Linked DNA regions of Homo sapiens. The protein of the gene in region 2 interacts with the protein of the main gene of each other region in a pairwise test. Each region holds a gene or a part of one and is shown on either strand. Other genes may lie near its edges.

Evidence for each region.
Region 1: the proteins of SERP2 (region 2) and TM4SF19 interact in binary tests that used the Homo sapiens proteins (3 or more experiments, as listed by UniProt).
Region 3: the proteins of SERP2 (region 2) and CYB561 interact in binary tests that used the Homo sapiens proteins (3 or more experiments, as listed by UniProt).

Annotation. Positions count from the first base shown.
Region 1 is NC_000003.12:196,328,261-196,331,909, forward strand, and holds part of TM4SF19 (transmembrane 4 L6 family member 19), read right to left. Parts: intron 1-3,649. UniProt on the Homo sapiens protein: Negatively regulates vacuolar (H+)-ATPase (V-ATPase) activity by interacting with members of V-ATPase V0 complex and hence inhibiting V1-V0 complex assembly. Required for multinucleation during osteoclast differentiation.
Region 2 is NC_000013.11:44,390,747-44,394,395, reverse strand, and holds part of SERP2 (stress-associated endoplasmic reticulum protein 2), read right to left. Parts: intron 2,971-3,649; exon of another isoform or gene 209-2,970; intron 1-208. UniProt on the Homo sapiens protein: Interacts with target proteins during their translocation into the lumen of the endoplasmic reticulum. Protects unfolded target proteins against degradation during ER stress. May facilitate glycosylation of target proteins after termination of ER stress.
Region 3 is NC_000017.11:63,436,307-63,439,955, reverse strand, and holds part of CYB561 (transmembrane ascorbate-dependent reductase CYB561), read left to right. Parts: intron 1-2,395; coding exon of another isoform or gene 2,396-2,408; coding exon 2,409-2,610; intron 2,611-3,649. UniProt on the Homo sapiens protein: Transmembrane reductase that uses ascorbate as an electron donor in the cytoplasm and transfers electrons across membranes to reduce monodehydro-L-ascorbate radical in the lumen of secretory vesicles.

The DNA.
Region 1 (3,649 bases), on a different chromosome or scaffold from region 2:
CTGCACTCCAGCCTGGGTGACACAGCAAGACTCCATCTTAAAAAAAAAAAAAAGTAACATTGTTATTATTCACAGATAATGTGATCACATTATGTAGAAAATCCTAAAGTTTATTAGAATTAACAGGTGAGTTTAGCAACGTCATAGAATAAAAGATTAATATACAAAAATTATATTGTATTTCTATATACAAGCAATGACAAATTGAGGATTGAAATTAAAATATATCATTTACAATAGCATAAAAATATAATACATATGGATGAATTTAACAAAATATTTGCAAGACCTATATAGTAAGAATTGCAAAGCATTGCTGAGAAAATTAATGGAGACCTAAATAAATGGAGACATATACCATGTTCCTGAACCAGAAGACTCAAAATAGTTAACATGTTCTCCCTAAATTGATGCAAAGATTTAAAGCAATATCAGTCAAAATCCTAGGAGAGTTTTGTTATAGAAATTGACAAACTGAATCTAAATTTATATGGAAATGCAAAGCAATTGTGAAGATTAGCCAAAGCAATTCTGAAAAACAAACAAAGCTGGAGAACTTACGCCATGTGATTTCAAGACTTACAAAGCTACAGTAATTGAAGACACTGAAGCCACGCGTAAGGAAACACATATGGACTACTGGAACAGGCTGGAGCTCAGAAACAGACCCGGTCCAGGAAAAATGATTTTTTTTTTTTCTTGAGACGGAGTCTCGCTCTGTTGCTCAGGCTGGAGTGCAGTGGCGCGATCTCAGCTCACTGCAACCTCTGCCTCCCAGGTTCAAGCGATTCTCCTGCCTCAGCCTCCCAAGTAGCTGGGATTACAGGTGCCCGCCACCATGCCCGGTAATTTTTTGTATTTTTAGTAGAGACGGGGTTTCACCGTGTTAGCCAGGACGGTCTTGATCTCCTGACCTCGTGATCCGCCTGTCTCGGGCTCCCAAAGTGCTGGGATTACAGGCATGAGCCACCGCGCCCGGCCAATAAATGATTTTTTAAGAAGATGACAATTCAGCGGGAAAAAGTCTCTTCCACAAATGGTGCCGGAACAATGCACATGCAAAACAAAACTGCCTTCACTATTACTTCACAACATATTCAAAAATTCACTTGAAATGGAGCATGGGTCTAAAAGCTTTATAAAATTTCTAGAATAAAACAAAGGAGAAAAACACTGGGACCTTGGGTTAGATAAAGGTTTCTTACTAAAATGCAAAAAGTACAATCCACAAAACATGATTAATCAGACTGCTTAAAAATTTAAATGTCAGCTGGGTGCTTGCCTATAATCCCAGCTACTCGGAGGTTGAGGCAGGAAAATCGCTTGAACCCAGGAGGCAGAGGCTGCAGTGAGCTGAGATCGCGCCACTGCACTTCAGCCTGGGCGACAAGAGCAAGCGACTCCATCTAAAAAAAAAAAATCATGCTAAAAGAAATAAGCCAGACACTAAAGGACAAATATTGTATGATTCCACTTATATGAAATATTCAAAATAACAACTTTATAGAGAAAGAAAGTAGACTGGAGGTTATCAGGGACTGTGGGGAGGGAGGAGAGAATGGGGAGTTATTGTTTAATGGTTACAGAGGTTTTCAGGTTTTGTTTTGTGTTGTTTTGTTTTTTTTTTTTGAGACAGAGTCTTGCTCTGTCAGCCAGGCTGGAGTGCAGTGGCGCAATCTCAGCTCACTGCAACCTCTGCCTCCTGGGCTCAAGCAATTCTCCTGCCTCAGCCTCCCAAGTAGCTGGGACTACAGGCATGTGCCACCACGCCTGGCTAATTTTTGTATTTTTAGTAGAGACAGGGTTTCACTATGTTGGCCAGGCTGGTCTTGAACTCCTGACCTCAGGTGATCTGCCCGCCTCGGCCTCCCACCGCGCGCGGTGGTTTTGGGGTTTTTTTAGAGATGCAGTCTCACTATGTTACCCCAGCTGGTCTTCAACTCCTGGACTCAAATGATCCTCCAGCCCGTGCCTCCAGAGTAGCTATGACCAGATCTGGGCCACTGCCCACGGTTTAAGGGTTACAGACTTTCTGTTTGGGGTGAAGAAAAGTTTTGGAAATAGATAATGGTAATGGTTGCACATCATTGCAAATGTAATTAATGTCACTGAATTATACACTTTAAAATGGTTAAAATGACAAATCTGATGTTACTTTACCACAATAAAAAATCAATTAAAAAATTTGTGATTACTCAAATCCTTATCAGTAATCAATAGGTGAATCAAGACAAATTGTGTTATCCATACAAATGAGTTCTATTAGGTAATAAAATGCGTAAATTTCTGCTACATATAACATGGATGAATCTCAAAAGCATTGTGTTAAGTGGAAGAAGCCAGAAACAAAAGACTACTCACATGTTTCTATATATACGAAATTCTAGAAAAGGCAAAACTTTTAACGGAGAGCAGATGAGCGGTTGCCATGGGCTGAGAATGGGAAAGAGGATTAGTATGGGGCATGGGAAGCTTTCTGAAGGGGTGGAAGCATTCTGTGTCTAGATTCTGGTGGTGAATACATAACTGTACATATTGACAAAACTCATTAAACTTTGCACTTAAAATAGGTGAATTTTATTGAATTTTAACTATATATCAATAAAGCTAATTACAATTAAAATGTCATATCTAGATAAATTATAAAATGCCTCTTCCACTCCTTATGTTCCTCTCTTTTATATTTTCATTGATATGTGAACTTCTTGTTTTTTAGAAAAATATGAATTAAGGCCGGGCACGGTGACTTACACCTGTAATCCCAGCACTTTGGGAGGCCAAGGCAGGTGGATCGCCTGATGTCAGGAGTTTGAGATAAGCCTGGTCAACATGGTGAAACCGTGTCTCTATTAAAAAATACAAAAAAATTGCTGGACGTGGTGGCAGGCACCTGTAATCCCAGCTACTCGGGTGGCTGAGGCAGCAGAATCGCTTGAGCCCAGGAGGCAGAAGTTGCAGTGAGCAGAGATCGTGCCATTGCACTCCAGCCCAGGAAACAAGAGTGAAGCTCTATCTAAAAAAAAAATATATATATATACATATATATATGAATTAAAATAGGACTAGTAATATTTGGGCAGACTCATGTCAATGTGGATCTGAAAAAAGTCAGCGTCATGACATCCCCAGGAAGTGGCCTGTTCCCACTGTGCAGTTCAGTTACACGTCTGTCTCCCCTTAAGGCTCGCTATTTATTTATTTATTTAATTTATTTATTTATTTTTTATTGAAAAAAATTTATTTTTAGCCGGGTGCAGTGGCTCACGCCTGTAATCCCAGCACTTTGGGAGGCCAAAGCCGGCAGATCACCTGAGGTCAGGAGTTCAAGACCAGCCTGGCCATCATGACGAAACCCCATCTCTACTAAAAATACAAAACTAGCCGGGCGTGGTGGCGCATGCCTGTAATCCCAGCTACTCGGAAGGCTGAGGCAGGAGAATCACTTGAACCCGGGAGGTGGAGGTTGCAGTGAGCCGAGATTACGCCACTGCACTCCAGCCTGGACAACAAGAGTGAAACTCCGTCTCAGAAGAAAAAAAAATGTAATAGAGGTGAGGTCTCCTTATGTGGCCCAGGCTGGTCTCAAACTCCTTGGCTCAAGGGCCCTCCCACTTCAGACACCTAAAGTGCTAGGATGACAGGCGTGAGC
Region 2 (3,649 bases):
ATCTCAGCACTTTGGGAGGCCAAGGTGGGCAGATCATGAGGTCAAGAGATTGAGACCATCCTGGCCAACATGGTGAAATCCCGTCTCCACTAAAAATACAAAAATTAGCTGGGTGTGGTAGTGCCAGCTACTTGGGAGGCTGAGGCAGGAGAATCGCTTGAACCTGGGAGGTGGAGGTTGCAGTGAGCCGAGATTGCGCCACTGCACTCCAGCCTGGGTGACAGAGCAAGACTCCGTCTCAAAAAAAATAAATAAATAAAAATAATAGAAAGAATCTAAGATAAAGTTTGCACGTCTCAGAACAGCGACACTGATATTAAAACAACTTACCTAGTTCTTTGAGTTTGCTTTAAAAACTGAGGATCATTCCTGATCATAATTGAATCCATGAATTAACATATAAGAGTCCAGCGATCCTTAACATGTTCACAGATGAACCTTCTTGGAGACACTACTTTGAATAAAGTCTATTTTTTTAAGTTCACCATTTACCTCCACAAGATAACAGAGAGATGACTGTGTTTATTATTTCTTTTTCAGTTGTATCATTGTCTTTAAGAAAACTTACACATTCTAATTATATTAACTGTAATTCTGTGTACCTGCCAATACTGACCTGCAGAGTAACCTCAGCCTTCCAAATGCTGACTTTCTGAGGCGGCAAATGGGAAGGGAGCCAGCAGTGAGTTCAAAAGAGGGAAAGGAAGCGGGGAGTCTAGACCCTGACAAGTTAATAACTTAACAGTGGGTGAACAAAGCTGAGAAAACAGCAGAACAGGCTGCAGGAGAGGAACTGTGGGCAGGCGAGACAGCGGGGAGGAGAGATGCCAAGAAAGGGAGGGACAGCAGGCGTTCCAGGGCAGGCGATCAGGGCGTGGGCAGGTCCCAGAGGTTCAGAAAAGTCCAGGGGAGAGCAGGAGCTACCAGACCCACGAAGCCTCTGCATCCTCCTACCTGTGTCAAGGATCCTGGCCCTTGGTAACCTTAGATGATACCATTTCTCTTTTTTCAGCACCCCTTTCAACAAAGTCTTTAGGCTTTAACATGCTAGGAGCACTCCCACTGAAAAATCAAATACACCAGAGCTATCTGCCTGACTCCACATCTCCATCCACAGGGCCCTCTCTTCCTCTTCACAACCATTTCTAAAGAGCTGTCTATGCTCACTTTCTGCACTCTCTTACCTGCTATTCTCATGTCAGTCCACCTCATTTTATCTTCTGCTCTCTTCCCTCCATTGAATATCTTTTGCTAAAGTCACAAATGACTTTTGAGTCGCTTAGTGTAACAGGCATTCTTCCACCTTCTTTTGCCTTACCCCCTGCTCACCCCCGCTGGGCACTTCCTGCTTGAAACTCTCTTCCCTTGGCCTCTGTGAAACCATGGTCTTCTAGGTTCTAATTTTCCTCCTTCTCTTGGATCTTTCCTCTAAACTTGTTTTAGAGGAAACAATCCACTTGACCATTAAACATAAGCGCTGACATTCTGCAATGAACGTCACTGGCTTTCTTCTCCTTACGTTCTTTCTTCTTAGGCAATGCCTCCCAGCCCACAGTTTGAATTGCCACCTAGCTGTTGATGATGCACAAATGTGTATCTCCAGCCCTGACTTCTCTGAGCTCCAGCACACCTTCCACTATCTAGTTGATATCTACAGCTGGGTGGCTCAGAGGTACCTCGGACTCAACAGGACCTTCTCATGATCTCGTCCCACTGCTAAAACTGGCATCATTATCTTCCATCTTGGATGTAGACTCAAAACACCACAGTCCTTCCTGACACCTCCAATTGATAACCAAGACCTGTGGATTTTACCTGGGAATCTTGTGATTATGCACCCTTCTTTCCATTCCTCAGAAGCCACCCTAGTCCAAGTTACCATCATCCTCCCCAAGACCCCAGTGAGGCCCTCCCAGTGCTCGACTCTTGCTCTTCTTCCATCCTTTCTCCATACTGTAGCTAGAATTATCCTTTCAATAAAAGCAAATAATATATTGTCACTCCCGTGTTTACTGCACATCAAAAGCTTCCCGTTGCCCAATCCCTGATGAGGCCTTCATGACCTGCACATCATGGTCCCTGTCCAGACCTGTCAGACTCACCTTGTATCACTCTTCTCCTTGCTTGGGGTACTCCCTCATGTTTTCAAAAGCTCCCTGCTCTCCTGCTCTCACCACAGGGCTTTTTTTTTTTTTTTTTGAGACAGAGTCTCACTCTGTCACCAGCCTAGAGAGCAGTGGCACGATCTCGGCTTACTGCAACCTCTGTCTTCCGGGTTCAAGCGATTCTCCAGCCTTAGCCTCCTGAGTAGCTGGGACTACAGGAGCGCACCACCATGCCCAGCTAATTTTTTTTGTATTTTTAATAGAGACGGGGTTTCACTATGTTGGCCAGGATGGTGTCAATCTCTTGATCTCACGATCCACCCGCCTCGGCCTCCCAAAGTGCTGGGATTTACAGGAGTGAGACCACAGGGCTTTTACACATGCCATTCTTTCTGTCTGAAATACTTCTACCCCACCCTATTCCCTAGTTTCCTTCATCAACCAAAATTTAATGTCTTCAGAGAAGCCTTCTTTGATCACCTGGAGCAGAGGTTCTCAGACTTGAGCATGCATCACAGTCTCTTGGGGACAGGTTAAAACACAAATGCTGGACACCTTCCCCCCAAACCCTGGAGTTAAGGGATGGAGAATCTGTGTTTCTAACAAGTTCACAGGAGATGTTGAGATGCCGGTCCAGGGACCACACTTTGAGAACCACTTACCTGAGAGTACACCAGTCCTTTGCATTGTATGATTTCATAGCCCCATGTGCCTCTCCTTTACATTGTTTCATGGCTGAAATTGTACAGTTTCATGGCTGAATTGAAAGTGTTTTGGTGTGATTACTTGATTAACTCATCTTTCTTTGCCATTAGACTATAAGCTCCAGGATAACAGCGACCAGGTATGGCACAAAGTAGGTCCTCTGTAAATATTATTGAATTACTGAAAAGTGAACGATTGCAAAGAGCACAGAGGAAATTACATTTTAAAAACCTCAAATGACTACTTTGCAAACCCAAAGAGTCAGCATCAAATGGCTGCCTTTAGATCCAAATGTCTCTAAAGCTCAGTCTTCGAAGGGGAAGTACAAGACTATAAACTCCTAAAGGCCTGATAATGGGCCATCCCAACCGACTCTCACCCTGGGGACTGACCCTCCCCAGCTAAGAGGGAGTGCCAGAAGGACACAGGGATGACATAACAAGTGGGTCCCATAGGAAAGTGTCAGAAAGCTGGAACCCTGCCAGGTAACAGGAGGCTTCCTAAAGCCACTTTTATTGACAATAAATTGATGATAAAAGAGATCAAGGGAGTTGCTGAGAAGAGAGATTAAGAGAGGCCGGAAGAAGAATATCCTTTAGGAGAAGAAGACAACCTAGAAATCATACAGTTTTGCTTATTTTTCATTAAAGAAAATGAAAATGATGAAAGAGCTGGTAGAAAGCAAAGTACAGGCCCTCTGAGAAACAAGCTGAAATGTTAGGAGACGAGACATTGCAAAGTGGATCACTAAGTTCTCTAAAAGAATCAGCACAAAGAAAGTCAAAAGCAAGATGCCATTTTCTGGTGGCTTCTCTAGAGATGGAGAAGAGGGAAAAAAG
Region 3 (3,649 bases), on a different chromosome or scaffold from region 2:
CCCTTGTTTCAGGATTCCCTGCAGAGAAGTTTGCAGATGACCACATCCTGTTGTTTATTTGGTGGAAAACTGAAATCGAAAGCTAGCTAAATGCTGAACAATGGGAACTAGTTGGCTAAAAAATGGCCGTGCAATGCAAGAGTGTGAGGTTACGAAAATGATGATGTGGGCGCGTATCCATTGACACAAACATCCATGTGTGCTACGCCCTCAGTTAAAAAGCAGGTTAGAAAATGGAATAAATGATCCTGCTTCTATAAAAGGATGCATATGTGTTTTAGGAAGAAGGTGTGTGAGGATATAGATCAAATTCTGATGGCCTGTCATTTTACCTTTTTTGCTGATCCATATTCTACTGCAGTGCGTGTGGATTATTAGCACACACACACACCCTTTTTTTTTTAATTAAAAAAAATTTTTTTTGAGACAGAGTCTCATTCTGTCACCCAGGCTGGAATGCAGTGGTGCGATCTTGGCCCACTGCAAACTCTGCCTCCTGAGCTCAAGGGATTCTAGTGCCTCAGCCTCCCAAGTAGCTGGGATTACAGGTGTGAGCCACCATGCCCGGCTAATTTTTATATTTTTAGTAGAGATAGGGTTTCACCATGTTGTGGCTGGTCTTGAACTCCTGGCCTCAGGTGATCCACTCGCCTTGGCCTCCCCAGGTGCTGGGATTATAGGTGTGAGCCATCGCACCCGGCCCACACACACACCCCCCCTTTAATGGTGGAGTTGCCAACAGTTGTCCGATGTGGCAGAGAGAACTGGGGAGCAGAGAAGGAGCCCATCACTGGGAGGGACTGAAAACCAGCTCCTGGGCACTGCAGGGCAGAGCGTGTGCCGGGTGTGAAGGGGGTCAGTGCCCCTGTGCTGGCCACTGTCCCCCTAGTTCTGATACAGTTGCTGCCAGGAGAGGCTGGACCGTGGCAAGGGGCCAGTGGGGAACCGGGGCGGGATGGGGGGCAGCAGCAGTGCTCTGGGGTCTGCTTGTGGTGGCCATGGTGGTGGCAGTTGCAGTGGCAACTGTGGGCCATGGCAGCACTTTTCCGTGGCGCACAGGCCGCTGCCGGGTGAGGGGAGAGCCCCGCTTGTTCTCCTCCTGCCGCCTCTCCTCCCATCCCCAGCTGCTGGGTGCTCTCCGGCCGGCATGAAGCTGTGCAGGCACTGGGCACTCCCTTGGGCTCTTAGCGGGGCCTTCTCATTGCTGCTTCGCTAGGAACCACCCGCTCTCCTTTCCTCCTGGAGGGCCACGTGGGGCCGAGCACCTGGGACAGCCGTGCTGAGCTCTACCCGGCCCCTTCGCAGGCCTCGTTTCTGGGGGCCTTCAGTTTTGGAAACCTCCCTGAGGGCCCCTCTAGAGTGCGGGTCCGCCCCGCCCCTGGTGTGGAGGGGAAGTGCCCTGTCCCTGTGTGCTGACAGGTCCCTGTGTGCAGCATGGTCGGGGCACTTCTACTCTGCAGGCGCGGCCGGGCGGGGAGCGGGGTGGGGGGCGGGCGGGGGCGTGGGGGGAGCGGGGCTGGCTCTCCTGGGTGTGGGGTGGGGAGGCCTCCTCATCGCCAGCATGGAGTTAAAAACCAGGATGGGGGAGGGAGACTTCCCATTTCTCCCGAGATGTACTTCATGACGCGTCTGGAGAAAAGGTGTGACCAGCCCCTTCCTTCCCGTCAAGGAGCGCGCTTGCCTGTGTAACTCACCTGTAAAGCCCACCCAGGGAAGGCCAGGGCCTCATGAAACAGAAAACAAAGCCGGGCACTGGGCCCTTGAGCTCACTAGAATTTGGGGTATCTTTCCTTGCACCCTCACCGCATATGGAACTCCTGGCGTCGTGTCCCAGGTCACGCCTGTCCCCGTGGGGAGGCTGGGCCCCTCCCCCCAGCCACTCCCGAGACTTGAGACCTCTGCCTCAGGACGATGGGTGGGAAGGGGCTTGCGGGTAGGAGAGCGAGCGCTGCTTCCAGCGGGAGCCTCGGGGGAGGGTGGCGGGGCCGCCGTGGGAGGAGCCGCGCCGCATCTCAGGCGCAGTCTCTAGGGGCTGTGCGCATCCGTGGGGGGGACATGCGCATCTCAGGGGGGCTGCTCGCATCTGGGGGTGCTGTGTGCATCTCGGGGGGGCTGTGCCCATCTAGCGGGGTGGCTGTGCGCATCTGGAGGGGGCTGTGCGCAACCCGGGGGGGGTGTTGCGCGCATCTAGCAGGGGCGGCTGTGCGCATTTCGGGGGGGGCTGTGCATATCTGGGGGGACCGTGCTTATCTCCGGGGGCGGCTGTGCGCATCTTGAGGGGTGTGTACATCTCGGGGGGCCTGTGCGCATCTTGGGGGGCTGTGTGCATCCGCGGGGGCTGTGCGCATCTCGGGGTGCTGTGCGCTGCTCCTCTGAGCTCTGCTCTTTCTTGCAGCGTTTGCCTCAGCATGGAGGGCGGGGCCGCGGCAGCCACCCCCACAGCACTGCCTTACTACGTGGCCTTCTCCCAGCTGCTGGGCCTGACCTTGGTGGCCATGACCGGCGCGTGGCTCGGGCTGTACCGAGGCGGCATTGCCTGGGAGAGCGACCTGCAGTTCAACGCGCACCCCCTCTGCATGGTCATAGGCCTGATCTTCCTGCAGGGAAATGGTGAGTCCCATGGGCCGCTCCTCTTTTCCCGGGCTTGTGGGGGTCCCTGAGAGGCAGTTTGCAGGGGTCTTGTCACCCCTGCGGTCTCTTCTGGTTGGACAAATCTAAGATTCTAGAAAAGACAGAGACAGAAGCTGGTTCAGAGCCTGGGGAGATGGAATCCAAACCCAGGCTCTGAGGTTGGTGAGTGGCAGCTCCTCTCCAGCCTGGTCCAGCATTTTCACCTCGTTTCCACACACAGCATCCAAGGCGGGCACTTCTTGCAGCAGAGGGAAAGGAATGAGGCTCCGAGCCAGGCCCTGCTGCAGGGGTGGTTTGAATTGAGGGAAAAAAAGTAATCATATGTGAGAGTTTGTATGCGTGCGTGCGTGCGCGCGCATGTGTGTTGTTGGTCTTGGACTTGGCAGAGCTAGAGCGCCTCCCCCTGGGGCAGGAGCAAGGCAGTGCTTGGCCTCCACCTGCCTCCAGGCCAGGGATCCAGGAAGCGGGATCTGCATCCGGTTGACCCGCTCTTCCTAGAGGTGGTCCTGGTGACAGCCATTCCTGAGCAGCAGAAAGCTAAGAGGCATTCCTCACGTGACCTGGCCTTGCCCACCTCTTCTGGACGCGGGAGATCAGGCTGGGATCACAAGGTTCTGCTTGGGAGCCAGGCGCCTGCTTGCTAGGAGTAGGACCATCTGCCCAGGCTTAGGTGGGGGCCTGTGTGAGGAGCCACGTGGCTAACAGGTGAACTCAGAGGCTGCTTGTTGCCTCAGTGTGACCAACAGTGGACCTCAAACACAGCCTGGAATTTGCAGGACACCTGACAAGAAGGTGGGTGGAGGGGGGCGTCTGCTGGGCCGGGCAGCTCCTTTAGGTGGGGACGAGGGCAGAGGCGCTGCCTTCACTGCCTGTCCTGGTGGTGGGGACTGTGGTGCAGCCTCCGGCCCTGCCCTCTTTGTGCACAGCTGGGGGAGGTTGGAGGGTGGGGGAGGGGTGTTAAGGTGCACACAGCCCTAGGTGCCCTCAGAGAAGGCCAGGAGCTGCCCAGGGTCCCCAG